Regions from separate parts of the Homo sapiens genome. Here regions 1, 3, 4 and 5 are each linked to region 2. The links come from fine-mapping of genetic effects on gene expression. A gene starts in region 2. Each other region holds a variant in brackets. All regions are shown on one strand. Distances are from middle to middle.

Region 1 (5,000 bases), 460 kb after region 2:
AATTAGAGGAAGGCAATGAGCTGACTGGATACTGGAAACCTCCCTGAACTGACTCTAATTAGCTTGGGTTACCAAAGTAGTAGAGGATCCACAGAACTTGAAGCTGCTTTGCCTGTGGAGGGCACGTAGTCAAAAGTGCAAATGTAATTTCATGGGAAATAAGGACCCTTACAATGAAGAGAGTATCATATCTACTCCCTCTACCAATTTTTTGGTTTTTGGCAAGGTGGGATCATGTTGGTCTCAATGAGTGGGGACCTGTTCAAGGTAGGTTGCTAAACCTGAGTGGTTCAGGAGATACTTAGGACACCTGAAAAAGAAGGGGATGGAGACAGACGGGGGTTTGTGGTCAGGCCGCACTCATTGCTGAGGATCTGGTATGCCAATAGTAGAAAGGAACTTCTAGATTAGCTAGAAGACTAGAAACAGAAATTCCTGTCTTGTTTTCTTTGACACATAAGATCTTTAAAAAGCCCTTGTCATTGAAGAAATGGGTTTAAATCTGCATTTGAGAATGAATTCATTCAGGTGACAGTAGCGCTGTTGGGCCCTTTAGTATCTTTTCTCTCCCTTGCCTTTAGGCTTTGCAAGCTAAACCTTCCTCTTTCTGTCACCACTTCCCAGGGAGTGGGCACCTCCAGCATCATCTCAAACTACTCCTGGCATATTTTGTCTCCTTTAATATAGAGAAAAGAAGTTGAAGGCCAGAGTTCAAGAGCTGGTGAGTGCCTTGGAGAGACTCACCAAGAGCAGTGAAATCCGACATCAGCAATCTGCAGAGTTCGTGAATGATCTAAAGCGGGCCAACAGGTAAAAATCTCCCTATACCCAGCCCCCACCGCCCTCCACCTGTGGTACTTGGACTGACACCCTGCATGTAGACACAGCACCAGGGATGGACATTTCCCTAACTCTTAAGAACTAACTCTAGAAAGTGGGTGAGTCCCTACCTGGCTCTCTAAGAGCCTGGTCTTCCTTAGAGTGGCATCTCCCAAGATGGTCTGTGGAAACTAAGAAATGCTCAGTAACAACATCCTTTGGCCAAATGTAGCATACTGTGGTATATGCCTCCTGGTATTATGTATCTTAAATGTTCTGAGAAGTCATATAATAAAAAATCTGTTTAAGCCAGTATTTTCCAAACAAAATTAGCCATGGAATTTATTTGAGCAACACAATATCCACTGGAATACTTCAGGAAATACTGCTCTAAGACTGGGCTCAGGACTCTTCTCTATAAAAAACGGAGGACCTCAGAGAGCTTTTGTTCCTGTAAGTTGTATTTATTGATACTTCTCATGTTAGAACTAAAACCAAGATAAATTATTTAAAGTTTTTATTATTTCATTTACAAAAAAAAAAATGGCATTTTTATGAAAAACTATTTTCCAAGAAATAATTAGAAAAGTGGCACTGGTCTTACAATTCTGCAAATCTTTAATGTCTGGCTTAATAGAAGACAGCTAGGTTCTCACATTTGCTTCTGTAGTCAACATTATGTGGATGTATATTGAGAACACCTGGCATCATCCAGCTCTATAGTTGGAAATAAAAGCTCAAGACCTCACAGACCTCCTGAATGGGTTTTACAAATCTCTGGGGTGAGTCCTCAGACTATCTGGGAGAACTGCAGCTGTAAGGGTAATGACTGTACATGGAATGGACCTACCTGGGCTCACTGTATACCCTACCACCAGGCTCTGGTGGGAACAGTTCAAAGGCCTGTATATTCCATGTTTGGCTTTGCAGCATTGGCTTATGGCCTAATTTAATATTCCGAGTCCCACCAGCCCAAAGCATAAAGGGAAGGTGGAACAAGAACAACCTCTCTGCTCTCGTCCCAGGTATGGTCACTTTGATTGCAGTGCCTTAGGAGTACTCTCCTGTAAGATACACTTGACTATGTTGCAAGCAACCATGGAGCAACAAATAGACCCACTATTTGTATTTATCCGTTTTGGACTGGGCCAATTTGGATTGCTGGTTTGACTCTTAGAACCCCTTCTAATATGTGAGAGTGACCAGCCTCTAGCAATCCGGCTGGATTCATCAGGGTTAAGCCAGTAGGTGACTGGCCGTTGAGTGTTGACATCCTGGTGCTGTCCCTCCTCTGACCACTAGATTTCAGATTCTTACCGAAGAGGATGAGTGATCTTTCTTCAGAGCAGTGCTCACTAGATCTGGTTATCCAGTGGACAGGATGGTGTCACGATGCTACTTAGGATGAATCTTAATACCAATTTCCCTTCATTCCCACCTAGCAACCTGGTGGCTGCCTATGAGAAAGCAAAGAAAAAGCATCAAAACAAACTGAAGAAGTTAGAGTCGCAGATGATGGCCATGGTGGAGAGACATGAGACCCAAGTGAGGATGCTCAAGCAAAGAATAGCTCTGCTAGAGGAGGAGAACTCCAGGCCACACACCAATGAAACTTCGCTTTAATCAGCACTCACGCACCGGAGTTCTGCCCATGGGAAGTAAACTGCAGCAGGCCACTGGGGACAGAAGGGCCCATGTACTTGTTGGGAGGAGGAGGAAAGGGAAGGCTGGCAGGTAGGTCGGCACTTGGACAATGGAGTGCCCCAACTCAACCCTTGGGG[C/T]GACTGGCCATGGTGACATTGTGGACTGTATCCAGAGGTGCCCGCTCTTCCCTCCTGGGCCCACAACAGCGTGTAAACACATGTTCTGTGCCTGCTCAGCAGAGCCTCGTTTCTGCTTTCAGCACTCACTCTCCCCCTCCTCTTCTGGTCTGGCGGCTGTGCATCAGTGGGATCCCAGACATTTGTTTCTGTAAGATTTTCCATTGTATCCTCTTTTTGGTAGATGCTGGGCTCATCTTCTAGAATCTCGTTTCTCCTCTTTCCTCCTGCTTCATGGGAAAACAGACCTGTGTGTGCCTCCAGCATTTAAAAGGACTGCTGATTTGTTTACTACAGCAAGGCTTTGGTTTCCAAGTCCCGGGTCTCAACTTTAAGATAGAGGCGGCCATAAGAGGTGATCTCTGGGAGTTATAGGTCATGGGAAGAGCGTAGACAGGTGTTACTTACAGTCCCAGATACACTAAAGTTACAAACAGACCACCACCAGGACTGTGCCTGAACAATTTTGTATTGAGAGAATAAAAACTTCCTTCAATCTTCATTTTGGAGGCAGGGCTGGGAAGGGAGCGCTCTCTTGATTCTGGGATTTCTCCCTCTCAGTGGAGCCTTATTAATATCCAAGACTTAGAGCTGGGAATCTTTTTGATACCTGTAGTGGAACTAAAATTCTGTCAGGGGTTTCTTCAAGAGCTGAGAAACATTATTAGCACTTCCCGCCCCAGGGCACTACATAATTGCTGTTCTGCTGAATCAAATCTCTTCCACATGGGTGCATTTGTAGCTCTGGACCTGTCTCTACCTAAGGACAAGACACTGAGGAGATACTGAACATTTTGCAAAACTTATCACGCCTACTTAAGAGTGCTGTGTAACCCCCAGTTCAAGACTTAGCTCCTGTTGTCATGACGGGGACAGAGTGAGGGAATGGTAGTTAAGGCTTCTTTTTTGCCCCCAGATACATGGTGATGGTTAGCATATGGTGCTTAAAAGGTTAAATTTCAAGCAAAATGCTTACAGGGCTAGGCAGTACCAAAGTAACTGAATTATTTCAGGAAGGTCTTCAATCTTAAAACAAATTCATTATTCTTTTTCAGTTTTACCTCTTCTCTCTCAGTTCTACACTGATACACTTGAAGGACCATTTACTGTTTTTTTCTGTAGCACCAGAGAATCCATCCAAAGTTCCCTATGAAAAATGTGTTCCATTGCCATAGCTGACTACAAATTAAAGTTGAGGAGGTTTCTGCATAGAGTCTTTATGTCCATAAGCTACGGGTAGGTCTATTTTCAGAGCATGATACAAATTCCACAGCCTTCTGTTCGCTGGAGGATACTCCAGCCACCAGTTCGGAGGGCAGACAGCTGTATCCTAAAAGCAACCACTGAGAGGCCAGCAGTGAGGCTGCCCATCTCCAAAACGAAACAACAGATCAACTGGTATCAGTCTAGAAGGACCAGCTTTGGGGTGCTTTGATCACTATGAAAATGTTCACTGGTTTCTGTCAATCATTTGGTCAAAGTTAGTTCCTGTGATTTTTTTTTTTTTTTTTTGAGATGGAGTTTTGCTCGTCACCAGGCTGAAGTGCAGTGGCGTGATCTTGGCTCACTGCAACCTCTGCCTCCTGAGTAGCTGGAATTACAGGTGCCCGCCACCATACCCAGCTAGTTTTTTTGTATTTTTAGTAGAGACAGGGTTTCACCATGTTGGCCAGGCTGGTCTCGAACTCCTGACCACTGATCCACCCACCTCGGCCTCCCAAAGTGCTGGGATTACAGGCATGAGCCAATGTGCCTGGCCATTCCTGTGATTTTTTAGAATTTTTCACTTTTCATATAAAGTTGCATTTTATCATGAGGAAAATGTTTTGGCTGAAAAACATATGCCCCAAAAAAAAAAAAATCAGTTTTCACTATTTTTCCAGCTTGCCTAGGGAAACGTCCTCCCCTGAGCAAAGTGGGATGTGCATGGCTCTTTTTTGTGATTAAGCAGGCATCAAATGGGCAGTTTTCATTTTCACTGACACAGAAACATGTGGCTGAAGCAGGAATAAAATCCTGCCTACTGACTTCTGTCTCCATTCTTGCTCCAGGTAAAATCAGAGAACCTCCCCTTCTCTGAGAATTCCCCCAGGCAGAGGCGGCTCCAGCTCCTGTTAAGGGCCCCAGTTTTACTCATGCTACCTGACCTTAGTTTTAGTACTTTCAAATGTGATTTGGGTAAAAACTATTTTGCAGGCAAAAGTGTTAATTTTTTATAAATATGTATAATAAAAAAGCTATAAAAGTTTTTCCTTTTCTTGTATTTTTCAAATACTCCCCAAGACACAATCCTTGAAGGTGAACTAGGTGGCACTTGATTATGCTAATTGTGGGAGCTACTGAACTAAACTATACTGATTA
Region 2 (5,703 bases):
CCCACAGCTCCACTAGGCATTGCTCTGTTGGAAACTCTCTGCAGCAGCTCTGACCCTACAATTCTGCTTAACATTGCCTTAGTTGGAGCTCTCTGAAGTGCTCTGCCCTTGTTACAAGCCTTTGCCTGGACCCAGGCTTTCAGCAAAAATCCTTTGACATCTAGGTGGAGACCCCACATCTCCACAGCTCTCGCTTTCTGCAAACCTGAAGAATTATAATGGCATCATATGGATGCCATTAAGGCCTATGGTTCTCATCTTCTTGAGTGACAGGTCAATTCACACCTAAAGCTTCTTGAGCCACAGCTGGCATGTCCAAAAAGCACTGTACCAGAATTTGGGAAGTAAAGACCTGAGAGAGACCTTGGCAGCAAGCCCATGAAAGGTGCCTCATGTCTGTCTCCTGAAACCATTCTGTCCTCCTGCCTCTGGGTCTGTGATGAGAGGAACAACTCAAAGTTCTCTGAAATGCCATCGAGGTCTTTCCTTCTCGTAATGATACTTTCTTCCTTTACTAATCTCTGGAACAAAAGGTTGCTGGGCTACACCCTTGGTTTCCTCTCCCAAACACACCTTTTCACTCTTCACATGGCCAGGCTGAGAGTTTTCCAAATCTTTCCACTTTGCTTCTCTTATGATTGTAAATTCCACCTTTAAAGTTTTTTTCCCCCTCTCACAGCTTGATGTAAGTGGTTAAAAGTAGCCATGCTGCAGCCTGAATGCTTTACTGCTTAGATATTTCTTTGGCCAGATACCCCAGTTTCTCTCTCTCAAGTTCAGCCTTCCAGAAAGCCCTCAGGCATAGAACAGTTCAGCTAAGTTCTTTGCCAATTTATAACAAGGATGGTCTTTACTCCATTTTCTTGTACCTTGTTCCTCAGTTCCATCTGAGACCTTGTCAGAATGGCCTTTACTGTCCATAGTTCCATCAGCATTCTGATTATGACCATTTAACCAATTTCTAAGGAGTTCCAAACTTTCCCTGTTCTTCCTGTCTTCTCAGCCCTCACTAGAACCTAGGCTTTTTCTAGACTGCTGCTTCATTCTTGTAGCCTCTGCTCATTATCCAGTTTCAAAGCTGCTTCTCCATTTTCAGGTATTCGTTTTCGTTAACACCCCACTCCCGGTACTAATTTCTGGTCTTGTCAATTTTCTGTTGCTTAGAACAGACTACCTGAAACTAGGGTGATTTATAAAGAAATGAATTTATTTCTTACAGTTCTGGAGAATGAAAAGTCCAAGGTCAATGGGCCACCCTGCTGGTGGGGACTCTGTGCAGAGTCCCAAAACAGTGCAGGGCATCACATGGCAAGGGGGCTGAGCCTGCTAACTCAGGTCTCTCCTTCTCTTCTTATAAAGTCACTAGTCCCACTCCCATGATAACCCATTAACTCATTAACTCATGAATCTATGATTTTAGTGCCCTGAAATACTGGGAACTTAGAGAATAATAAAGAAGTAAAGTAGGAATAGGTAGATGGGGTGGAGAGGAGGAGAAAGAGAGCAGAGATTCCTTCCTTCTGACCTAGCAGACATTCCCAAGACATATGGACTTGTTCCAGTTATATATTGCTGCATAACAAATCACCTCAAAACTTAATGGCTTAAAACAACAATTTTTAATTATTATCTTCACAGCTCTGGGGGTTGGTTAGCCAGTTTTGCTCAGGGTCTCCAATGCAGTTGCAGCATCTAGAGCTAGCATCATCTCTCACTCATGTCTGGCACCTAGTCTGGGAAGATTCTAAGATCCAGGGCTAGAACAGCTGTAGCTCTTTGGTCATCTCCTTTTTTCTTTACATGGTCTTTCTGCATGGTTTCTCCAGCTTCAGGGTAGCCAAACTTCTTTTCAGGCAGCTCAAGGCTTCAAAGGTAAGTGTCCCAAGGGAGAGAGCCAAGTGCAATCTGCATTGCCTTTTCTAACCTAGTCTCAGAAGTCAAGGCAGTCACAAGTCCAATCCAGGTTTAGGGGAAGCAACAGACTCCACCTCTTGATGAGGGGTGCACCAAAGAATCTGTGGACATATTTTAAAACCACCAGAGAACTTCACACGCCTCTCTGGCAGAAAATCCAGGACAGAATAATGAGTCATTCACGAAACCACAAATTGCTTCACTGTGGTTTCCCTTTGGCTATGGGGGAATAGTGCAGTGTTTAAAGGCTCCTGCTCTGGAGTTAGGCTGCCCGGGCTTGCCTCTGCCCTAACACTTACTAAACCTGGAACCTTGAGCAGGTCTTGGTACCTCAGTTTTCTTACCTGTAAATTGGGAACAATGAGAGCTAACAGTTGTTGAGCACTTACTAGGTGTCAGACATTGTCCTAACTGCATTATGTCTGCTCTCCTTTTATATGTAAGATAACTCTATGAGGTACTTATCTATTAATACTTCCTAAGTCGTAGGATTGATAATAAAAGAGGCATCTTCCAGGTCTGTAGTGTGGATCAAATGAGACCATCTATTATGTTCGCTCTTGGCATTATTAAAGCTGTTGGGGGAAATTCTAGTGATGCCTGGCCAGTAGAGTGAGCCGTTTCCAGAAATTGACCCAACGTACACAATGCCACACAGCGTGCAGACTCTTCCCAGTACAGAGTGGGAGCCAAGATGAGGGCTGCGAGGGCCAGGTTTCTTGACAGGTGTCAAAATTTCATAAAAAGGCCAGTCATTCCGGTTCTCATTGGTGGCTATGGGTACAGAACCCGGAACAATCCTGGAGAGTGGGATTACAAGCACCGTTTTGAGTTTGCAGAAGGAGAGTGTTTATATAGCTTCTCTGGAAAAGGAAGCCATGACTCCGGGCGGTCGGAGAAGGTCTGCCGGGAGTACACCTGCCCTCTGCCTGAAGCGTCCCCAAGTGTCCCGGGCCCGCGTCGTTGCCGGATGCACAATGCTGACACCCTTCCCGGGGGCTTCCAGTGTATTCTGCCTCCTCTTGTGTTCCCGTTGCCACCCTTAGCTCCCTGACTCTTCCAGCCACCTTCCCCTCCTCCCTCTTCCCTGAGGTGCCTCCTCGGGCGATTCCAGAGCGCCCATCTTCCCAGTCCGGGCAAAACCCGGAGAGGTGGAATCCCTCGCCCGGAGCGCCCCGGCGGCCACTGGGCATGCTCCGTTGTCAGGCAAGTTCGGGGCTGCAGGCAGCTTGCGCGCCGCGCGGATTCCAGCTGCGGTCGCGCGTACTCCTCCTCCCAAGTAGGGAGCGGGCGCATGATGGCGGCCGCGGCGGCAGCGGCTGCGGGGAGCTCCAGCAGCGGCGGCGGCGGCGGCGGCAGCGGCAGCAGCAGCAGCAGCAGCGACACGTCCAGCACCGGCGAGGAGGAGAGGATGCGGCGCCTCTTCCAGACGTGCGACGGCGACGGGGACGGATACATCAGCAGGTACGCGGGGAGGTACGAGGAAACCGACAGGAGCGAGATCAGTCCCTCCGCGCGCCCTTGACCCCTGCTCTGCCCCCTCGCCCCAACTTGCGGCAAGTTGCTCAGAAGCTCGCGGGAAAAGTTGGCCGCGACTCCGAGAGCGCGTAGCCGGCTCGGCCACGAAGGCCGAGGGGACTGCTCTGTTCGCCTTGCGGGGGTGCCAGTTGGTCCAACTTTTCCCAGCGCTGTCTTTGTCTAGGCGTTGGGAGACATCTCCTTAGGATGCGCACTCTTCCGGGGGCTTGGAGTGTTCTTCCCTGTGGGAAAAGGAGTTCTGGCCGCTTGTCCCAGGTAGGAGGGGCTGCCCCACAGCCTCGGGGTCCTGGGCATCAAGATGCCGCAGCACGGGGCAGCGATCTGCCCGGCGGCTTGGTGGACACCCCAGGGCCGCACCGGGAGGAGATGAGCTAAGCGACAGCCTCGGACAGGGAAATAACCTGTGAAGAAACTTTCTTGTGCCGCAGAACCCATGAATTCCAAACTTCAGAGCCCAAAGAATGGGTATCGTTTGCCACCCAGTATTGATTTAAACGCAGTAGCCTGAGAGGAACGAAGCGCTCAGGAGCAAACTAGGGCTAGACCCGACTCCTACCCGGCTCTGTGCGCTGACCAGGTGAGCTTCGGCGTGGCTCCGGGCGCCTCCGCGCCTCCACTCACAAACAAACTTTGGGGTGTTTGCTTCGGATCCCCCGCACTTCCTACAGAGGCGGTATTTAAGCTTCCTGCCTCCCGGCTTGGCCAAATAATTACTTCTGCCCAAATTTGTGTCACTTAGACTCTTGTGGTGAAGAAGGCAATCGCAACATTTTCTGGTATGCTTCTATTGAATGGTTGACACCGGCCATTGAAGACTTGGTATCCGTGGAAATTTGAATTGCCTTGGATGAAGGAGCAGCCTAAGTTGTGCATTACATGTTTCTTTAGTCTATGTCTTGGTGATGCTAAAGATCGTTTCTGAAAATCCGGGGCTGCTTCCTGATTGTCCCTGCCTACCTAAAAAAAAAAAAAAGAAAGCAAAGTGCGGAATTTTTCCCTTAAAATAAAAAAAATTATTTATTTGGGACTCAACGCAATTTTGATCATTCTTAGGTGAATTTTTATTACTTTGCTAAAGTTTTACTGAGAAACATTAGGAAGATATCAGAAAACTTGATGGAGTAATTCTGTTCGGAAATGAAAATAATATGTAATTCTGATTGACTCCATGCAAATTTCTATCTGGAAGTCTCGTTATTTTGGTTCTGGGAGTAAAAGAAATTTCATTATATAGTTTTCCTTTTTGTTGTTTTCCTACTTGAAAGGTTATTATCTCATTTGCAATAATAAAGGCAAACTCCAACTTTGGATACAATTTTTTTTTTTTTTAGACAGAATCTCGCTCTATCACCCAGGCTGGAGTACAGTGGCGTGGTCTTGGCTCACTGCAACCTCCGCCTCCTGGTTCAAGAGATTCTCCTGCCTCAGCTTCCCGAGTAGCTGGGATTACAGGTGCCCACTACCACTCCCGGCTAATTTTCGTATTTTTAGTAGAGAAGGGGCTTCACAATTTGGCCAGGCTGGTCTCGAATTCCTGACCCTAAGTGATCCGCCCGCCTCGGCCTTAGGAAGCGCTGAGATTACAGGCCTGAGCCACCGCTCCCCGCATGGATGCAAAAAAGTTTAATTTCACACGGGCAAGAGTGCATACAGAAAACTAGCAGCGTGCTATCCTTTTCTAATTTGGCCTATTAATATATTGCTTTATCTGAACTACACTTTCTATATAAATGCTCACATTATTTTCGGTGATTCTACCCGGGAGGATAATGAATTCTGTAAGCGTAATTTGAGTAAAGTGGGTGGTGATAAAGAAGCCGTTTTGGATTAGAGTAGAAACTGGCTGGGGCAAAAGTGGAAAAAGTTGTTAACATTCCTTGAGCTGCATTACTTTAATGTGTCTGCTTAAAAGTTTCAAGGTATGTGTAGTAATGAACCCTAAATCATAACTTTAACTGTGGGTGGAGCTGCCCTGAAAATTATGCTGTGGCAGAATTGCCATGTAGGAGAAGTTTAGGGATGGCAATCTAGGGCAACAAGGAACTTGTCTGGAAGTGTGTTTACCTGGTAAGCACAGTTTTACCTGGAATTTACGTTTATGTGGTAAGACTTGGGGAATGGGGCTAATGAAGGTAAGGGGCATTAAATGATTCCCTCTCTGAAGCCACTTTTCTGTGCTGCTTTCATTTAATGACCTGTACTTACCACTCTGTAGTGGGTGATGTGGTTTGGAGGGTTGTGCATTCCTGT
Region 3 (5,000 bases), 390 kb after region 2:
CACAAATCGGCCACATAAGTTCCTTCTGAGATTTTCTAGAAATTCTTCAGATTTACAGAATTCTTCTGCATGTTCATGTCATAAGGTGTTAACAATTTCTTCTTTACACACTGTGCTCTACCTGGGTATTTTCTGCATGTCTTGGAATGAGTTCCATCTGTCTCTCCTGGGCCTCTCTCATCCTGGGGGTCTGGCTTCTGGTTTCATTGCCACAGTAAATTCAAGAGACAAGTAGACATGCTATTTTGAACCAAATAAAAGTCACCCTCGGCCAGGTGCGGTGGCTCACGTTTATACTTCTAGCACTCTGGGAGGCCGAGGCAGGAGGATTGCTTGAGCCCAGGAGTTTGAGACCAGCCTGGAAGTGTAAGTGTTGTGATCTTACAGAGGTTAAATAAAGAGACATCTATGTTTTCCCTCACATCTCTTTTAGCCTCATTTGGCCATAGTCCCGTCTGAGCTGGTCCCACTCTACCTCCCCTTGGTGTTGCTTTTCTTGAGACAGGGCTATATAGAGAAAATGCAGACTGCAAAATAGTACTTTATATTTATTATGAATTTATAGCTGTATAAATTTCCATTTCATAGATATTCATATGTATGTATATAAAAATATTGAAAATAGACCAGAAAAATATAAACCAACATCATAATGGTAATATGTTGTATTGGCCTCAAAGGGACCTTAAACTTCTCTATAATGTTCTAATTTATGTTTTTAATGAATGTATTCATATCATTGTATAATTTTTAATATGCAGAAGTATATACATAGAAATAGAACACTGATATGCTAAAATATTAACAGGTTAAATCTGGGCAGTGGAAGTATGCGATTGCTTTTTTTCTTCTTTGTCCTCTTTAATTTTCAAATTAAGCAAAAACAAAAAAGTATGGATTATGGAGAATGATCTGTATCTCACAGCTTTTAATGGTTTGATATTCACATATAAGCTGAGTCTTCTTTTTTGTCCTTTATGGAACTTTGTTCATTTCTTATTTGTTCCATTTCTTCATGGGAATTTCTTTTCAGGATAAGGAAGAGGATGCCAATATTAGCTGAGTTTAAATTCATAAAAGTTCTGTAAAACCAAGTCCTGTCTCAACACCGCTCCTCTCAGCTCTCCCCAGCTGTCATCTAGCTGCATGGGAGGGAGCTGAGAGGAGCCAGGTCTGGCTTCAGTGTGCTCCTTCCACATGGGAGGCTCAGGTGGCTCTTCTTTTGTATGGCTGGTATATTAGTCAGTATGAGGCTAGATTTTTCTGCAATAACAGGTTCACTCCCCAAATCTCAGTGGCATGGCACGTTGTTTCTTGCCTGCACCATATATTCAGTGCAGGTTAGGGGACAGGTGCACGTCTCTGATCCATACATTCACTCAGAAACTCAGACTGTTGGCCATCCACCACCTAAGAGCCCACTCAAAGGCTCCCACCACAGCATTTAAATGCTTCTGCGCCCTGCCTGTTGACCAGAACTAGGCAGATGGCTTTACCTAACCATAAAGGGGCTTAGGAACATGTGGATATTCAACAGTACAAGTTTCTGATGCAGCTGATTTACATGCTTTGACTATGATACCAGCCGGGCTTGGCCGTGAATCAGAGTTGCAGAGAAACAGGCAGTTTCACTCATCCATCTTGTGGTGACCCCACACGTGTGTGTCAGAATCACTGGGAAGCTCTTTGAGAGGATGTGTGCCCAGGCCTTTCCATGAGCCAGAGTCAGTAAATGGGGTGTAGCACCCTGGCACACTCCCCCACATTATGATTGTGGTCAGCACTTGGAGACAAGGAAGGGAGAGGCAGTGTCCTTTGGTCACCCACTGGACATGGGCCAAGAGCTTCTCCAAGTGTCCTCTACTTCCCCTCTGCAGGTGAACTGAGAGAAAGAGCTACAGGCTTTCTGCCTTCTCCTCATGCCCAGCCTGCTCCTCCTGGGCCCACCATGTAGCAGTGATAAGCCCGGCATCTGCTAGGGAAGCTGCCTGCTATGTGGAGCCTGCCCTGCACTGTCCCTTCACCAGGGTCATCTGAGCTAGAAGTGGAGGGAGGGTGGAGTCCACCAGGGTACAGGCACCCCGGGGCTCCCAAGGCATGGAGGCACTGCCTGGCCCAGTGCCAAGTCCCCCAGCTCACCCCATGAAGGAAATCACTTCCACAGGGAGCCACTTACCAGTGCAAGCTCAGTAGGGCTTATTTTTAAGAAAGGCTCTGTTAATAATATTGATAGTATTGACATTCTGTGAATATTTGCAGACTGAACTCCTCTCAGACTAGACACCCCCCAGATTAAAATCAGATACCTCTAAAGGCAAAGCGGGACTTACTCAAAGCCTAAATCACCAGCCTGGGTAACATAGCAAGACCTCTGTTCTACCAAAAAAAAAATTTTTTTTTTTTTAATTAGCCAAGTGTGATGGTGTGCACCCATAGTCCCAGCTACTCGGGGGCTGAGGTGGGAAAATGGCTTGAGCCCAGGTGATCAAGTCTGCAGTGAGCTGTGATCACACCATTGTACTCCAACCTGGGTAATAATAGCAAGGCCCTGTCTCTAAAAATAAATAATTTTGAA[A/C]ACCTAAATTATGATAATAGCCCAGAACATATTTCAAACACTTATTTGTGATGGGTGATGATTTATGCACATTTTGTTTAATCTGCTCCAGAATCCTAGCTGATAGGTACTATTATTATACCCTTTTTAGAGATGGGAAAACAGAGGCCTACAAAAGCTTTAACAATCTTGCCCAAGTCTACGTTGATGTTAACTCTTGGTACCAAAATTTGGGATCTGGTGGCCTTATTAGGGGAGGCAGTTGTCATTGTTCTCTTGTTTAGACCACTTTCCTGTAGCCTTCTGTCCACCCTTGTCCTCATCCTAGCCCCACTCCCATGCAGACCAACAGTGGGTAAAATGTCCTCTGTTACAGCAACATGGGGGCCAGATTCCTTAGGGTTTCACAGACCCACTCTCCTGGCATTCTAATGCTACATGAAGGCACACTGAGCTTGTTGCAGAAAATAGGAAGCTGGTGGTATGCATGCTTTTACCTTGACCTGAGTCCAGTGTTGTGTTCCCCTCCTCTCTGTAGACTGAGGGAGTTTTAGGGGGAATCCAAGGCAGAGAATCCCCAGAACCCTGGTTCTTTGACCTCTTCCATGGACACAGCTCCCAGTTACTTCATGAGGGCCTTACACACACTTGAGCCACGGAGATTGTGAGGCAACTCCTGCTGTGGGCACCAGTATTTGCTTACTCACCCCAGCCTCATGTGCCTATGAGGAGGCCAGGCTGCTTCAAGGCTAGCTCTTGGCTGTCATGAAAGAAGCTGACTCAATTTGTCAAAAAGCTGGTAAGAAATTAGGAACATTGGCCGGGAGCGGTGGCTCATGCCTGTAATCCCAGCACTTTGGGAGGCTGAGGCGGGTGGGTCACAAGGTCAGGAGTTCGAGACCAGCCTGGCCAACATAGTGAAACCCCGTCTCTACTAAAAATACAAAAAATTAGCCAGGCGTGGTGGTGGGCGCCTGTAATTCTAGCTGCTTGGGAGGCTGAGGCAGGAAAATCGCTTGAACCCGGGAGGCAGAGGTTGCAGCAAGCCGTGATCGCGCCACTGCACACCAGCCTAGGCAACGTGTGAGATTCTGTCTCAAAAAAAAAAAAAAAAGGAAGATTGCCAAAATGCTGGCCTTTTCCAATGCAACCATTTTTATAACACATCCAGGTACTTTAGTGGGCTATAAAACAAAAGAGAAAATAGCACACATATCAAACTTACCGAGAGATGGAAATGCTGTTGGATGTTTTCTCCTTCTATTTTGTGATCTCTCTCTTCTGTTTCCATCTAGTCAAAATTGCCATTAACAATAAAATACCACTATCCTGAAACACCATGTAAATTTGATTTATAGAAAGAAATAAATATTTGCTGTAAATAGATTCTGATTATTTGAGGGCTCTAAGAAAAATCATATAAAATCTCCAATAAGAGGTGTGGTTCTCGGCAAAATATCTACAAACCCTGGACTTCGAGATAGCAGCTTTCCAAAAACTACACAGGGACTAACTGCATGAAGCTCATTAAGTAGAACTTTCCCAGCCTAGTGATTCTCACCATTCTATAGTGTGGGAATCATCTCATCTCAACCAGCTCCATTACACAGTGAAATTATGAATTACAGCCTAATTGCCTGAAATTACAACTACCCAGTGAGTACTGCTACGTATCATCAGCAGAACAGGCTCTTTCTTTTATGGCTAATAAAAATGTTTCTGATCCTGCTCAGGACTCTGGTGCCACCTTGCCTTCCTGCTTGTCACTCATCTGTGAGCCACATTCACAGATGACTTCATCAGCTGACTCTTGTCTGTGCTCCCACAATTGTACTCAGAGATTGAAGCATCCGCATAGCTGACCTGTCTCATACTTGCCTAGCCTCACGTTTCCAAGGAATTTCCTACCACTTTGGAAACCTGCTTCTGTGCACACTCTTTGTGTTTGACAGCTCTAGGGCCAAATCCCCCCAACATCTCACTTTCCCACTCTGCCTAATCCCTTATGCTCCTGGCTTGCATCATTTACTTTCTTTTGGATTGATTGAGAGAGAGAGAGAGAGAGAGATCAACAGATAGATAGATAAGATAGATATGGGATCTGGCTATGTTGCCCAGGCTGGAATGCAGTGGCTATTGACAGGTGTAATCACAGTGCGCTCGACCCTTGAATTCTAAGCTAAGCGATCCTCCTGCATAGCAAGCTGCCTGAGTAGCTGGGACTACAGGTGCGCACCACCATGCCTGGCTTTTGTTGTAATTTGGCACTCAGGACAGAGAGAGAAGATAATTATATTCACTAGTCACATTCACTGGTCCCTCTTTTAATTTATTCCTTGCAAATAATTTATCCCATATAATATCCCATCCCCTTCCCCCCATTTTGTGCATGTCCTAAGATAGTGTTTTGCATTACTTTTAATTTATTTAAATGTTACTCTGCTGT
Region 4 (5,000 bases), 210 kb after region 2:
TGTTAAGCAGTTTGGTCATTTGCTGACCAGCATATACCATGAGGGCAATGGGAAGGGAACTGAAGAAGCCCTAAACCTAAGCCCTAGGCTCTTCCACCTCCCACTTGGTTGTGGAGCTTTGGACCCCTTGGACTTCCATGGCTGGGTCATCTCCATGGACTCTCTTATGGTGGTGGTTTCCATTCCCATGGCTTTGACTGCCACCTCTAAGCTGTTGCCTCCAACCTAGGTTGGTCTGAATATCCAACAGGTAAAAGGAGAATCACAGGTCTTGTGCAATACAAAATCTTCTTGTAGTCAGTATTCTTCCTCCTCCTCCCTCCTGCCCTCTCAAAACAAAGCTCATACTGCCCCTTCTTCCTGTGATGACGTTTCTCCATCTGGTGACACCAACTCATCTTCTAGACTCAACATGTCACCTTCTCTGGAAGGCCTTTCTCAACTCCTGGTGAGTGCCAAGTACCCCATGAAGTCTGGCAACACTCCTCACCCCTCTGACTTACGACTTAGAATTCTATAATACAGTGTGTTCACCTATGTCTCTGTCTCAGCACCTTTGCTGGTGAGAGTGGCTGGTGGCTGGAGAAATGCTTTCGTATCAGAACATACCCTACATTGTTGCAGTGTGCTTGACAGAATACATGATAATAAAGAATAATGAAAATAAGTAAAATAATACTAGGAGATAGATAGAAAAGTTACACATAGGGCAACTACTTTTATATCAACCAGCGGTGTGAGCCCCTGGAACCCACCACCCCCAGGTTCCCTTTCCATGAAAAAGGATCTGGGCTACAGCTCGCCTCTATCTACTTCTGAAGGCAAACACTGAGCCCCAGGGGCCCACCCAGTACAACTGGGGTTGGAGAGCTTTGTTTCCAGCCAGATTACATGAGAGTATCTGAACTTGGCTCTGGGTGTCCTCTCTCAGGAAGAGAAGAGATCAGTGTGGAGGCCGAATGGAAGCAAGTTGTAGTCCTGGGATGATGGGAGTAGCTCCAGGAGCTGGAATTGTTGCAGATTGTGTTAAGAAATGATAAATGTGAAGAATGGCAATACCATATTATTTTGTTGAAATACTTCTAGTGAAGCAGTATGGTACAGAATTACTTCAATTTCATTTTGCAAGTATTCCCTTTATGCATTTCAAAAGCTACATCTATACTTTTTAAAACATATTGCCTTTAATACAACAAAACTGTTTAGTGATGCACAGTAATAATTCTGATATTCAAAGCATCCTGTTACAAATTAGTATTGTTAAATGTATATTGTCCATTGATACTCTGATTATTCTAAAAATTCGTAAGAGCTTGTGAGAATGGTAACGTAATGCATCTGGACTTATCAAGGTTTCTTTCCAAATTAAAAATGAATAGTATTAGAAGATGGGGCTTGGGGGATAATTTTATCTATAATTGTGTTCTACATGCAAAAAGACATCCTTTCTTACAAAGATACGAAGTCCATGCAGTTAAGCTCCGATATTCATTTGCAAGAGACAAATATGTTAATTGCTTTTCTGGGGTGAATGATTCTTAATCCAGTAGAAATGAAAGAGTTTTAAATTCATTTTACTAATTTTTTTTTAATGTCAGTGTTCATAGATTACTATATAGAGTTAATAAGGTATTCCAATGAGGTCTGGGTTACTGGGTGAATTTCATTCACAATACGACACTGTAATATTCCTCAGTGGTAGAATTAAGTTTTCATCAAAGCAATCAGCCTGCAATGCTTCGGGTGACTCTGAGCATTGAACATTGGTGCTTATGTGGGTTGGGTGGGAAACTGGAGCACACCATGTCGTGAAATGATGAGGCTGATGTAGTGTCTTATAAGTGCTACTTAACACAGCAATTGGAATTGGGAAGTTACTGAGATCAGTTGTGTGGAGAGTTCTGAGGTTTATGACTCAGAAAAGAAGTTAACCTTTTCATTGCACATCTGACTATCAAAAACCCCAGCTAAAGACTCATGGGCTTTTCCCTTTATATTCTTGCCTTTAATATACCAACGACATAGAAAAATTTTAAAATTGCTTTTTAAAAATACTCTAACATGTTAATATTTGGAAAAGGCCAGCTTGCAAAAAGAGACACTTGATTTGTAAATTTCTGGACAGCATAAACCAGACTATATGGTGGTGAGAATGAAGGCAGTTATTAAAGGTTTCAAGAAGAGCATTCAGCTGTGCTAAGCACTTTGAAAGCATTTGTTTGGTCATTTCCCTGCCTAGAAACCCTTCATTTCGAGGTACCCAGCCCCATATACCCTGTTGATCACTCCACCTATATCTCCAGCCACGTCGCTCACATTCTATCCTCCAGCCAACACCGCTGATTTCAGCACCTTCAAGGTGCCTGGTTGTCTCTGGACTTCACAACTTCACATTTGCTATTCCTCCACTGGTATACTATCCACATCCTTAAACTTTGCTTGTCTACCTCCTGCTCATCATATAGGACTTAGTTTAAATGTTAGTTACCTTGGAAAACTGTTTCTGATGTTGCCACCCCCGGTCTAGGTTCCATCTCCTCTCCTGTGTTCCCCGTTGCATTGGGTAGTTCGCATTGTAGCAGTTAATACACTGTAAAGGCCTGAGGACTTGGTATTTCGTACCACAATGGCTGTTATTCACCATTGACCCTAGTACCTGCATAGTGCCTAATAGTGCCTGACCCTCAGCATTCACTTTCTAGTGAATGGCCTTCATTTAAAGTATGCCATGGTCCCATGAGACAGATCCTGTCTTTAGGGGCATTTGATGTGAGAGAATAGAAGCTCAGACAGGTTAAGGATCTTGTCCAAGGTCACAGGTCTGGTAGATGGCAGGGCCAGGTTTCAATTAGGGTTTGATTCCTGAAGTCCCTGCTGTTTGCATAATGCTACTCCTTTCTCAGACCATGTTGTCATGGCTGTTGGAGCTGGAAGATGGCTTGGTAGGTTGCAGGGAAGGACAGGCATTGGGAATAAT[A/G]CCCAGGTTTCTGAGGGGATTCTGCTGATAGGTGAGACTGGAGATCTCCTAGTAAAATCCAGTTCGTGAGGAATGATGAGTCTAGATTTGGGCATTCTGAGTTTGAGATGCCTGCTGGTCATCTAAGTGGAAATGTGCAGTAGACTGTTGGATAATAAGGCTCAGAGACAGGTCAGGATTTGGGCATCTTTGGTCTTCATGGCTGTTCACTCACAATGCAGATGGCTGATGGGTGATGTAGACATATAGTTTATTCCAGTCTCTCCACAGTAGATGCCAATATCGCATATACCACATAAATAAAGAGTGGTATGAAGTAACCATTTGGTACTGTTTGTACTCAAATGCAGATGAAAGGACCATAGTCTGTCTTCTAGCATTTTATGTATATATAATACATGTGTGTATAGTTCAGAATCTGCCATTATAACTAAAGCAGACCGTGCTTTTTAAGTCATGGTTTTTAAAATTGTTTTTAAGAAAAATTTAATTAGTTCACATCACATGAGCATTTCCACCTTGGACTCCTTACAGAAAGGGCAGGATAAAGAGTAAGGAGTATGCAGGCATGATCATAAAAATAGTGCATATTCATACAAAACTTGGGAAATAAATGAGTAAACAAAAAATTTTGTATTTTACTATCAGGTAACATTTTGGTAATTTTTTTTTTTTTTTGAGATGGAGTCTCACTCTGTCACCCAGGCTGGAGTGCAGTGGCACAATCTCGGCTCACTGCAACCTCTGCCTCCTGGGTTCAAGCGATTCTGCTGCCTCAGCCTCCCGAGTAGCTGGGATTACAGGTGCCCGCCATGATGTCTGGCTGTTTTTTTTTTGTTTGTGTTTTTGTTTTTTGTTTTTTTTTAGTAGAGATGGGGTTTCACCATGTTGGCCAGGCTGGTCTTGAACTCCTGACCTCAGGTGATCTGCCTGCCTAGGCCTCCCAAAGTGCTGGGATTACAGGTGTGAGCCACCATGCCTGGCCGGTATGTCTTTAGTTATAAAGATTTCTTTAAAGGGATCATACTTGAGTTTTAAAGAATCATATTCTGCATTTTTTTCAAGTTTTCCTTGATATAGCTTCTTTTTAAAAACTTGATTCCTTTTGGCCAGGTGCAATGGCTCACACCTGTAATTCCAGCAATTTGGAAGCCTGAGGTGGGGGGAATCACTTGAGCCTAGGAGTGTAGACCAGCCTCGGTAACACCGTGAGACCATCTCTACAAAAAAAAAAAAAAAATAAGAAGAAAAATTAGTTGGGTGTGGTGACGAGTACACATAGGCCCAGCCACTCGGGAAGCTGAAGTGGGAGGATCACTTGAGCCTGGAAAGTCGAGGCCCCAGTGAGCCGAGATTGTACCACTGTACTCCAGCCTGGGCAACAGAGCCAGACCCTGTCTCAAAAAACAAACAACTTGATTTTTAATAACTCTGATAGTCCATCTTATATATCATAATATACAGTTAACGACTGAGTAAGTATGTAGGTTTTCAATCTGTGTTCGTTATAAGCACACCTACATAACTTTGTGTTTTCTAATATCTTTAGGGCAGATCAAAGGAAGGAAAGTGGGGGAGGAGAGAGGGAAAATAGTGTAAATGAAGAAACTGAGCAGTGTATTGTGCAGAATTGGTGTCTGACGTTAAAGAAGAAAAAACAAGGGTACCTTGATGCCCCAGGGTGGTCTTTGTAAAATAATCCAAAGACTATAAAGTTCAGTTTAAAAAAACCAAACACATAGCTATAATAAATTAGGACCATCTGTTGTTCTACCCAGGCCTGCGTACTCAGTCTCCAGCCTGTTGCTTATTTAAGAATGCCTTTACAATGGTGAAGGAGTGCTGCCAGGGTGTCTGGAGGGAGTCAGGGGAGGCGTGTGGGGCAAGGAGGAAGGCAGCAGCTTGGGGAGCCAGCATGGGCTGCTGTGCTGTTCCCACACTGGTTACCCTTTGGGGCCAGAATCAATGTGGCCACTGTGGCCTTGAGATTCTTGCCACCTGTGGCCTTTGACAGCCCATCCAT
Region 5 (5,000 bases), 480 kb after region 2:
TTTAGTGTGAATAGTGCACAAGTCAGCTACACAAAAATCCTACTAGTATATCAATTAAAATAAGAACAAAACAAGTAACATTCCTGTGCTTTGGCAATGCCCTTGTTTCACTCTTCAGAGGATGAACTGCCTACTTAGTGTGACAGCTATAACTCTTACCATCAAAGAATTCTGCTGCTTTGCTGGCTGAAGCCCATTTGTTCTTTTCTTTTGATTAGGTGAATCTTGATACTGTTTTCTGCCATTTCCCCTCATACTTTGATTCTGTTTTCCCAAAAAGAAATATAATATGAATCTATAGCATAATGTAATAGCACAAAAAAAATACCCCATGAATATGTTTAGCTGGTTGAACCAAGTTTTTAGCAAAGCTTCTCCTACCCAAATTTTCATTAATCACCCTATCAATGTATTTTCTTATAGAAGTCAGTGCTTCCCAAAGCAAGAGTTCTCTAAAGGTATGAAATAGCAAATACACTTGCCCCTAGAAATCTTTCCACACCTCGGCCGGGCGCAGTGGCTCATGCCTGTAATCCCAGCATTTTGGGAGGCTGAGGCGGGCGGATCACGAGGTTGAGATGAGACCATCCTGGCTAACACAGCAAAACCCCGTCTCTACTAAAAATACAAAAACTTATCCGGGCATGGTGGCACACGCCTATAGTCCCAGCTACTCAGGAGGCAGAGGCAGAAGAGTCACCCGAACCCAGGAGGTGGAGGTTGCAGTCAGCCAAGATGGCACGACTGCACTACAGCCTGGGCAACAGAGGGAGACTATCTCTTTTTCAAAAAAAAAAAAAAGAAAGAAAGAAAGAAAGAAAGAAATCTTTCCACACCTCTTGCCTTATCCCATGTCTGCTTATAGATCTCGTTTCTAATGCATAAATGGAACCTCTCTGTAAAGGAATGCCGAGGGACATTAGCTACAGTTCTTAAAGCAGAAAATGGGTAGATGTAGTAATCAATTGTTACCCTAGAAATCTGCTTTAAATTATTAATAAGCAGTATTAATTTTTACAAAGTTTTTACTATATTTTTACAAAATAACAAAGATTACTATTATTTTTTTTTTAAATGGAGTCTCACTTTGTTGCCCAGGCCGGAGCACAGTGCTTGGCTCTCTGCAACCTCCACCTCCCAAGTTCAAGCGATTCTCCTGCCTCAGCCTCCCAAGCAGCTAGGATTACAAGCATATGCCACCATGCCCGGCTAATTTTTGTATTTTTAATAGGGACGGTGAAGGTTTTCACCCTGTTGGCCAAGCTGGTTTCAAACTCCTGACCTCAAGTGATCCACCCACCTTGGCCTCCCGAAGAGCTAGAATTACAGGTGTGAGCCAACGTTCCCGGCTAAGATTTATGTTTTAAAATGTGGGCCATTATTCCTAAACTTAGACATGCAATAGTTTGAATCTTGCTATTAAATTGCTTTAAGATAATTTTCCTACCAAAAAATTCTTAAGTTTAAATTAAAACGAACATTTTAAACATTAATTTGTTGTTTGAGATATTGAAAAGATAGCTATTTGAGGACTGGCTAAAATAGAATAAATAGGAGGAACTTCTAAAATATATATATATAAAATAAGAATGTTAATTTACATTCCAACCTATAGGGAAAAATAACCAGTTGCTAAAATAGCTGGAAAACAATAACCTAAGTAAGTGATGTGAAGGAAGTATGGCTTTGAATGACTCATGTTACTACGCAGTTTTAATTTAGTTTCATTCCACTCTTCCCAGCAGTTTTTTAATTGTGGTACAAAATACATACAATTTACCACATCAACCACTTGTGAATGTATAATTCAGTGGCATTTAGTATAGTCAGCACTACCCACTTCCCCAACTTTTATCATCCCAAACAAAAACTCTGCAACCAATAAACAGTAACTCCCTATTCTCCCCTCCCTCTAGCCTTGGTAATCTCTACTTTGTGTCTCTATGAATTTGCCTATTTAGGAATGGAATAACATTAATACGATATTTATCCTCTTGTGTCTGGCTTATTGCACTTAGC[A/G]TAATGTCCTCGAGGTTTACCCATATTGTAGCATGCTTCGAAATTTTTTTTTTTTTTTTTTTTTTGGAGATAGGGTCCCACTCCTGTTGCCCAGGCTGGAGTGCAATGGCGCCACCACAGCCTTGACTTCCCAGGCTCAGGTGATTTTCCCACCTCAGCCTCCTGAGCAGCTGGAACTACAGGTGTGCACCACCATGCCTGGCTCATTTTTTATATTTTTAGTAGTAGAGACATGCTGCCCAGGTGGGTCTCGAACTACTGGGCTCAAATAATCCGCCTGCCTCAGCCTACCAAAGAGATGGGATTACAGGTATGAGCCCCCATGCCTGGGCAGAATTTCATTTCTTAATTTCATTCCTTTAAAGCTGAATGATATTCCATTATGTGTATACACCACATTGTTTATCCATTCATCTGTTGACAGGCATATGAGTTGTTTCCACCTTTTGGCTATTGTGAATAATGCTGCTATGAACATTGGTACACAAGTTATCTGTTTAAGTTCCTGCTTTCAATTCTTTTGGATATTACCTAGGAATGGAATTGCTGAGTCACATGGTAACTCTGTTTAACTGTTTGAGAAATTGCCAAACTCTTTTCCACAGCGGTTGCACCATTTTACACTCCCATCAGCAATGCACAAGGTCTCCAGTTTCTCCACATCCTCACCAATACTTGTTTTCTGTTTTTTTGTTTTTTATTATAGCCATCCTAATGGGTAAGAAGTGATATCTCACTGTGGAGATACCACTAATTATTAACAATGTTCCCTAATGATTAATAATGTTGAGCCATTTGCATATCTTCTTTGGAGAACTGTCTATTCAAGTCATTTGTCCAGTTTTAAATTAGATTGTTGTGTTGTTGTTGAGTTCTAAGAATTCTTTACATATTCTGGATATTAACCCCTTATATATATAATTTGCAAATATCTTCTATTTTGTGGGCTACTTTTTCACTATTTTGAAAATGTCTTCTGAAGCACAAAAGTTTAATTTTGACAAGCCCAGTTTACACACACACACACACACCCACACGCACACTTTTTTTTTTGAGACAGAGTTTTGTTCTTATTGCCCAGGCTGGAGTGCAATGGCGCGATCTTGGCTCACTGCAGCCTCTGCTTCCCGAGTTCAAGCAATTCTCCTGCCTCGGGCTCTATCTAGAGTAGCTGGGATTACAGGAGCCCGCCACCACGCCCAGCTAATTTTTTGTATTTTTAGTAAAGACGGGGTTTCACCATGTCGGGGCTGATCTCGAACTTATGACCTTAGGTGATTCACCCGCCTCGCCTCCCAAAGTGCTGGGATTACAGCCATGAGCCACCACGCCTGGCCAAGCCCAGTATATTTTTAAAATAAAAAAAAAAAAAAAGTAACATTGAAACCTGAAATTAAAAAAATAACATCAAGTATTAGTAAAGATGTGCAACGATTAGAACTCTCATGTATTTTGCTGAGGATATAAATAACTTGAGTAAATTAGCAAATAGATACTCAATAACACAGGCATATCCAGTGATCCAATAATTCTACTTTTCTTTCCTTTTAGTTACACAGAACTGTGTATATTCATCAAAAGACAGGTATAGGAATGTTCACAGCAGCACTGTTTGTTAAAGCCCCAAACTGGAAACAACCAAAATGTGCATTAACAGTGTTATGAATAAATAAACTGTGGTGCTTAGAACATGTGGAAAAAAGGAAAACAAGTATTAATAGCAGTGTAATTATACACTCGAATACAACAATGAAAATCGAAGTTTACAATACGCTGTTACTTTTTCTTCCTGAACAAAAGCCAATAGATCCCACTTGTGTTAATTTGGAAAATATTTTCCTTATGACTTATTTTTAAATGAACCTTTCATTGGCAGCATATACACAAAAGTCAGATGCTAATTCTTATTATTAACTGGATTTACACCGGAACTGTAAACATTAAGAAGCCTCAGCCCTGCTTCAAATCATAAGTAAGGAACATACAGGCTTTGATCAGTAACTCAGAGCTCTCTGTAACTATTAAGATGTAATTCTCCAATTGAGAAAAATTTCAAAGCCAAATGATCTAAATTTCTGAAAAGACTGTAATTGTGTATCACTCACCTTTCCTTTTAAAAGGTCAGACATTTCAGAATGATTATTATATGGCTTTTGCTGCAGTGGTTGCCTGTGCTTTACCCACTGGTCACCAGGAGAACCGTCAGGAAATAACTGCTGACTGTGGCGGAATTTGGTTCGACTACACCAAGATTTAAAAAATAATCAAATCAGAAAATGTTCACTTATAGTTCTTTTAACACCTTAATAGTTAAATTTATAGACTACATATTTTCTTATTTACTGTCTATCTTCCCCACTGGAATGTAAGTTCTATGAGAGCAGAGATTTTAATCTGCACTGCTTTATCCTCATCACCCAGATGAGTGCCTGGTATTCAATAAATATTTCTTGAATGAATTAATACACTACTATTTTTTTTCATCCTAGACTTAAAAAAATTATCCAGGCCATCTCCTCCCTATAAGTGATTATAGTGTACTCTTAAAAAATATGCAGACTATAAATCTAAATTTAGATGAAACGAATGTACATTTTCCTGCTTTTTGAGACTGGGTTTCCCTCTGTCATCCAGGCTGGAGTGCAGTGGCAGGATCACAGCTCACCGTGGCCTCAACCTCTCAGGCTCGAGCCATCCTCTCACCTCAGCCTCCCAAGTTGCTGAGACTACAGACACACGCCACCATGCCCTGCTAATTTTTTGACCCTGCACAAGTCAGTTACAGACCACATCCTAGCTGAAAGATGATCTGAGAAAGTAAGCTACCCTCTAAAGTATAAAATTAAAGGGCACAAGATAATGAATGAGCAAATTAAGTAAAGATCCAGTCTCGAATTCTTCTGCAAAAGAATCTATTAAAATGTTGTACTAATGCAGGCTGAGCGCAGTAGCTCACACCTATACTCCCAGCACTTTGGGAG

Alleles and levels. Positions count from the first base shown, and alleles are read on the strand shown. Sizes are in standard deviations (SD) of each study's normalised expression. Not every link is listed here.
For the expression in aorta of the gene that starts at base 3,170 in region 2, T is the low allele of the variant in region 1 and C is the other (small effect, 0.35 SD a copy in GTEx).
For the expression in tibial nerve of the gene that starts at base 3,170 in region 2, G is the low allele of the variant in region 4 and A is the other (small effect, 0.35 SD a copy in GTEx).

Evidence for each region. PIP is the estimated chance that this variant, and not a neighbour inherited with it, causes the effect.
Region 1: its variant is the best candidate, but not a certain one, in a credible set for the expression of MCC in aorta (GTEx, PIP 0.50).
Region 3: its variant is the best candidate, but not a certain one, in a credible set for the expression of MCC in skeletal muscle (GTEx, PIP 0.71).
Region 4: its variant is the best candidate, but not a certain one, in a credible set for the expression of MCC in tibial nerve (GTEx, PIP 0.67).
Region 5: its variant is the best candidate, but not a certain one, in a credible set for the expression of MCC in whole blood (TOPMed, PIP 0.75).

The regions. Positions count from the first base shown.
Region 1 is chr5:113,024,744-113,029,743 of GRCh38, reverse strand. It overlaps MCC (MCC regulator of Wnt signaling pathway), which reads left to right. Exons shown (of 19, transcript NM_001085377.2): 18 at 688-810; 19 at 2,262-5,000. The coding sequence ends at 2,442. Among named protein-coding and RNA genes, the nearest start is that of DCP2, 50 kb to the right of the region's middle. The variant C/T (reference allele first, on the strand shown) is at 2,601.
Region 2 is chr5:113,485,920-113,491,622 of GRCh38, reverse strand. It overlaps MCC (MCC regulator of Wnt signaling pathway), which reads left to right and starts at 3,170. Exons shown (of 19, transcript NM_001085377.2): 1 at 3,170-3,378. The coding sequence starts at 3,209. RefSeq lists an enhancer at 2,977-3,271.
Region 3 is chr5:113,093,092-113,098,091 of GRCh38, reverse strand. The region is part of intron 8 of MCC (MCC regulator of Wnt signaling pathway); the gene reads left to right. Among named protein-coding and RNA genes, the nearest start is that of DCP2, 120 kb to the right of the region's middle. The variant A/C (reference allele first, on the strand shown) is at 2,576.
Region 4 is chr5:113,276,023-113,281,022 of GRCh38, reverse strand. All of the region lies in intron 3 of MCC (MCC regulator of Wnt signaling pathway), which reads left to right. Among named protein-coding and RNA genes, the nearest start is that of TSSK1B, 160 kb to the left of the region's middle. The variant A/G (reference allele first, on the strand shown) is at 2,978.
Region 5 is chr5:113,003,202-113,008,201 of GRCh38, reverse strand. DCP2 (decapping mRNA 2) reads right to left here. Exons shown (of 11, transcript NM_152624.6): 8 at 4,125-4,260; 9 at 160-264. Among named protein-coding and RNA genes, the nearest start is that of DCP2, 29 kb to the right of the region's middle. The variant A/G (reference allele first, on the strand shown) is at 2,020.